Regions from separate parts of the Homo sapiens genome. Here region 2 is linked to region 1. The links come from fine-mapping of genetic effects on gene expression. Tissue or cell type: whole blood. Region 1 holds a variant in brackets; the other region holds the start of a gene. All regions are shown on one strand. Distances are from middle to middle.

Region 1 (2,835 bases):
AGCAGAGGTTTGACGCAGACCGACCCCCACAGCTGAAGAACATGGAGGTGTTTGACACCATGGCCTGGCCAAGTGGGATTGAACTTGCCAGTTTTGGGAATGATGACATTCTCAACCTGGCCAGGTATTTCGAGTGCTCCCTCCCAACAGGATACAGTGAGGAAGCTCTGCTGGAGGAGTGGCTGGGCCTGAAAACCATTGCCCAGCACCTCCCGTTCTCCATGCTCTGCAAAAACGCCCTGGCCCAGCACTGCCGCTTCCCCCTGCTAAGCAAGCTCATGGCCGTGGTGGTCTGTGTGCCCATCTCCACCTCTTGCTGTGAGCGGGGGTTCAAGGCCATGAACCGAATCAGGACCGATGAGAGGACCAAGCTCTCCAACGAGGTGCTCAACATGCTCATGATGACAGCTGTGAACGGCGTGGCCGTCACGGAGTACGACCCCCAGCCCGCCATCCAGCACTGGTACCTGACCTCCTCAGGCCGGCGTTTCAGCCATGTCTACACCTGTGCCCAGGTGCCAGCCCGCTCCCCTGCAAGTAAGTACACGTGGCAGAGCTCCCCCAAGGCAGCCTCATGCTGAGCCAGAGGCCAATAAGACAGGACTGCAGGTGCCTGTGGAGCTTCTGTCATGCACCCACCCATTTGCTAGGCCAGTGGGTACTCGATGCGTGACATCCACCCTCCAGGAGCTTGCACCCCTGCCAGGGAGATGACGCACATGTGCTCTAGGCAGCAGGGCTTAGTGCAGAGAGCGTGCATTTCTAGAGCCTGTCTGCCCTGGTGACAGTGCTGTGCTGGCTCTGCCCCCAACTGGCTGTGTGGCCTTGGGCAAGTCTGTCCTTTGATGCCTTGGTTTCTCATCTGCCGAATGAGTTGTGTGTGGAAAACACTCAGGACAATGCCTGGCAGGTGGTGCAAATGGTACTAGTTAAAGGTCAAGACCACTGCTGGGAGTAAGGAGAGGGCTGACCAGCCCCAGGCAGCGCCATCACATTCTAAGTGGGGCTGTATAGACTCTGGACCGTGCAGGAATTTTCAAGAGGGAAGAGGTCCATGTGGCTGTGGAGGAGGTGAGATGCGGAGGAGATGGTGGGGCTTTCAGGCAGAAATCTCACGGGGCAGGGGAGAACAGAAACAGCCTCTCTGGACCGGAGGGCTGGGGTCAAGAACTTGCTTGAGGGGGAAGCTGTATTAGAAGGGAGGGCAAGTTACTGAAAGCCACAGACAGGAAATTTTTCTCTTCAAGTAGTCACTGAAAACCAAAGAAAATATGCCCATTGTTGGGGTTCTCCAGACCACTCGCGACCACTTGACAAGGATGGAGCAGTGCTCTCTCTCCTCGCGTCTCTAGCTGGCCTCCTTCCGGCTGTTGCTGCTCCCAGTGCTCTCTCTCCTCGCGTCTCTAGCTGGCCTCCTTCCGGCTGTTGCTGCTCCCAGTTTTCACCTCTGAGTCTGTGGTCACCAGAAATGGGACTGGATCTCATGGCTGACAGAGGCTCTGTAGGAAGCAAGGTGGCCCTGAAGCCACAGTAGGGCAGGTGGGGA[T/G]AAGAAAAGAGACCCCTCACTGATAAGAGAAAGGGAAAGCCGAGAGAGGGCTGGGTGAGTTGCTCTGTGTCCAGCCCTGTGGGTGCTAAGGAGAAAAAAATGATGTCAGGTGTGCCCTGATGCGAGTTACTCTTTCCACAGGGACAACAGGACCAGCACAGATTGGTCCAAACACTGCCAAACTACGCACCGCTGCCTCCTTCCAGGCAGGGCTCTCAGCCTTGGCATTGTTGATGCTGGGGCTGGGTAATCTCTGTTGGGGGCCCTTCCTGTTCACTGTGGGAACTTGAGCAGCATCCATGGCCTCTACCTATTAGATAACCACTGGATACCAGTAGCACACACCCCATTTGTGACCACAAAAATCATCTCCAGACATTGGCAAATGGCCCCTGGGGGACAAAATCGCCCCCAGTTGAGATCCCCTATCTCAGGATAAAAGAATGAACAGAGTAGCAACAGATGAGGGCTGCAAAGAGCAGTCGTGGTCCTGACTTCAGTCTGTTCTGCCAAGCTTTCCTCACCAAACAGCCCCTGGGCGAAGCTGGATGTGGAAGGCGGTCACTGTCAGTCAGTCTAATTGTATTCTCCTTCCTCCCTCACAGGCGCCAGGCTCAGGAAGGAGGAGATGGGAGCCCTCTATGTGGAGGAGCCCAGGACCCAGAAGCCACCCATCCTGCCCTCCAGGGAAGCAGCGGAGGTTCTGAAGGACTGCATCATGGAGCCTCCCGAGAGACTCCTGTATCCCCACACCAGCCAGGAGGCCCCCGGGATGTCCTGAGGGACAGGGAGTCCTTGGGACTGCCTTGGAGACGCCTCTGTGATCACTGGGACAGGCTCTGCAGATTCTAGGCTGCCCTAGGATCTTCTGCTGGTGGCGATGGTCTCTAAGCACCAGGAAGTGGGCAGTGGCATCCCAGAGCAGCAGGGGTATCAGGAGGTGCATGACCTGTTTCCTGAGGCCCCACTCAGCACAGCCATGCCTCACAGCACACAAATGTGCCAGAAGGTTCTATATCTCAAGTTCATTTTTAAGGTGCTGCAGAAAATAACCCCATCATGAAAGGTTTCAGCCCCTGAGTTTTGGTGGCAAGAGGAGTGTCCTGGTAGGGGAGACTGTTGGACATCCCTGGGGAATGTTCCAGGGAGGCTGCCCACAGTCTAAGTGGGAATGGGAAAGACCACCTTGTTAGAGGGGGAGGTTGCCCCTGCTCTAGGGACAGCTGGCCTGGCTGCAAGAGCCCCCAGAGGCATTGTTCTGGGACTTCCTACCCTGGCTCCCACAGCAG
Region 2 (2,667 bases), 25 kb before region 1:
GATACTGCTCCATTTTTCTTGGAAAGATGGAAAACCTTTTATGGAAAAATGTGTCAAAAGAATGATTTACCCTAGCTGTCCTCCAGTTTTTTAACCCCTAAAAGAGAATCTGTTATAAAGACATGGATAACTCATGGGCAGAAATATAGCTCTTCAAGGTAGTGATATAGTCGAGGTGGTGAGTGGCAGGCCACTTGGAATCCACAGAGTCCTCACTCTCTGCCTTCTCCTCCACATTTCTTGTGTCTCATTCTTTTTTTCAGTAATGCAGACTCCCCTACACTCCTCGAACGGAATTTAGGTCTATTCAACCTTGGCCAGAAGAGCAGAGCTGGATAATGGAAAACGCTTACTTGAAGCCTGTGTAACATGGTGAAACCCTGTCTCTACTAAAAATACAAAAAAATTAGTTGACCATTGTCTTAATCTCTATGTGCTTCTGTAACAAAATCCCTGGAACTAGGTAATTTATAAATTATGGATACTTATTTCTTATGATTCTGGAGGCTGGGAAATCCAAGATCAAAGCACCAGCAGTGTCTGTGTCTGGTGAGAGCCTGGTCTCTGCTTCCAGGAGGGCACCTTTTTGCTCTGTCCTCACATGGCAGAAGGCAGAGGGGCAGAAGGGCAAAGGGCCTAGCTAGTTCCCCCAGCACGCATGTGGTCACTAACACCTTCATGAAGGCACATCCCTGCCCTGGCCCCCTAAAAGTCTTTTTTTTTTTTGAGACATGGTCTTGCTCTGTCACCCAGGCTGGAGTGCAGAAGCGCCATCCCGGCTTACTGCAGCCTCGACCACCCAGGCTCAAGTGATCCTTCCACCTCACAAAATTATTTTATTTTTATAGAGATGGGATCTCTCACTGTGTTGCACAGGCTGGTCTCAAACTACTGGGCTCAAGTGATCCTCCTGTCTCAGCCTCCCAAAGAGTTGGGATTAGAGGTGTGAGCCACCGCACTTGGACAAAACTTCTTATAAGGACACTAATCCCACCATAAGGGCCTGACCCTCACGACTTCATCTAAACCTCCCAAACGCCCCATCTCCTGGGAGGGGAACACCGGTCAGTCCATTGCACCTCCTTTACCTGGCAGACCCTACCTCTTGCTTTAATTCTGCTGAGGCATCACTTCCGCAGGAAATCCTTGACTAAGCACCTCATATCCCCCACCGCTTCACTCTAAGGTGACAACGCGGGCTTTAATTCATGTTTTGTGCTTACCTCTTTCATAGCCCTTGTCTCTGTTTTGTAATTATCTGTTTCTGGTCTGATTCCCTAATAGATCGTGAGTTCCTTGAAGGCAAGGCCTTTGTCTCATTCAACTGTGTTCTCCCAAACCCTAGAACACGGCCTGACCCATGGTAGGCAACCAATGATACTTTTTGAGTGAATAGAACAAAAAGTATTGCCCTCCTTAATAAAAGAAAACCTAGAACTTCAAGGCTGACATTGGCCTTCGCGTAGCCCAATCAGAGCGCTTTGCCCTTGCTGCAGAGGACTAAAGGACGCCACGCCGCCGTTGCCTAGTAACTGTCGCCGGAGGGAGGCGGGGAGGGTCGCAAGCGCGCCGCCGGCGTCCAATCAGGACCTGCGTTCCGGGAGCCAATAGCAGCTTCGAGAGCCGCTCACCTAGAGCGGACTACACTTCCCGTCACGCCCCGCCGCCTGGGGCTGGGCAGTGACCGTAAAGCTGTTCGCTCGGTGCGACGCAAGTCTCAGCTCAGCGCGCTTATCCTGGGTCCACCGGCGCTACCGCCCCCCGACGTGAGAGAGCGAAGTTCTTGGGCCGCGCTCCCTCCCTACCTGGGTGCCCTCCCCCTCCGGGAGCCTGGGTCCCCGGGGCGGTCGCGGCGGCTGCATCCTCAGGCCAGGCCGCGGGGGGAGGGGGCGGCACGGGCCTCCGAAAGCGGGGCCATGGAGCCCAGAGAGTCGGGGAAGGTAGGACTGGAAGGCCCGGGGGCCGCCCGCTCCCTCCCGAGGATCCCCGAGCCGGGCTCGGGCGAGGCGGGGCGGCTCGGGCGGAGGCCCCGCAGATGAGCCAGGCTTGCAGGGAAGGACTCGCCGGCCCGCCCTCTCTTCCCGCACTTCGGCGCCCGACCCCGGGAGGGTGGCGGAGAGGAGCGGACGCTTCCGTTCGGTGTCCGCGCATCCTCCCCGAGCTGCCGAGCGTCCGCTGGGTCGATGCTGGGTTGGGTGACCCCCGAGTGGAGCGATGCGAAGGTGCTTCCTGTTTTCCCCACCACCTTCGGCGTTTTGAAGAGGCCCTGCTAAGGCTTGGAGTCTGGATCGGACGCCAGTGGGAGCTGCAGGGTGGGACGCTTGAGGGCTTGACCCTGCCTAGATCCTCCTTACCAAGAAAGGGCTGAAAAGAGAGGGCATCTGGCATGCTTTTTGCCACTTCTGTTTCTAGGTTATGTACTTCATGGAATATCTGGGCATTGCTTAGAAACCTGTGTCATAAATTGGCTTTGGGCAAGAGGCTTTGAGTTGGAAGAAAAGGTGGAAAGAAAGTGCTTGGGGGCGGAGTTCAGGGATTTGACGGGATTGCCAGCGCTTCCAGGCCGTGTCATCCAAGACCAGTGTGGTTGTGGGCACATTAGCTTGGAGACAGTGGCAGCCTCTTGGGACTAACATCTTTCTGGATGTTGTTTGCTGCCAGTTCTTG

The links. PIP is the estimated chance that this variant, and not a neighbour inherited with it, causes the effect.
Region 2: it holds the start of ZNF862, and the variant in region 1 is fine-mapped to the expression of ZNF862 in whole blood (TOPMed, PIP above 0.99).

The regions. Positions count from the first base shown.
Region 1 is chr7:149,861,958-149,864,792 of GRCh38, forward strand. It overlaps ZNF862 (zinc finger protein 862), which reads left to right. Exons shown (of 8, transcript NM_001099220.3): 7 at 1-537; 8 at 2,152-2,835. The coding sequence ends at 2,327. Among named protein-coding and RNA genes, the nearest start is that of ATP6V0E2-AS1, 10 kb to the right of the region's middle. The variant T/G (reference allele first, on the strand shown) is at 1,547.
Region 2 is chr7:149,836,696-149,839,362 of GRCh38, forward strand. ZNF862 (zinc finger protein 862) reads left to right here and starts at 1,680. Exons shown (of 8, transcript NM_001099220.3): 1 at 1,680-1,940. The coding sequence starts at 1,917. RefSeq lists a silencer at 1,756-2,215.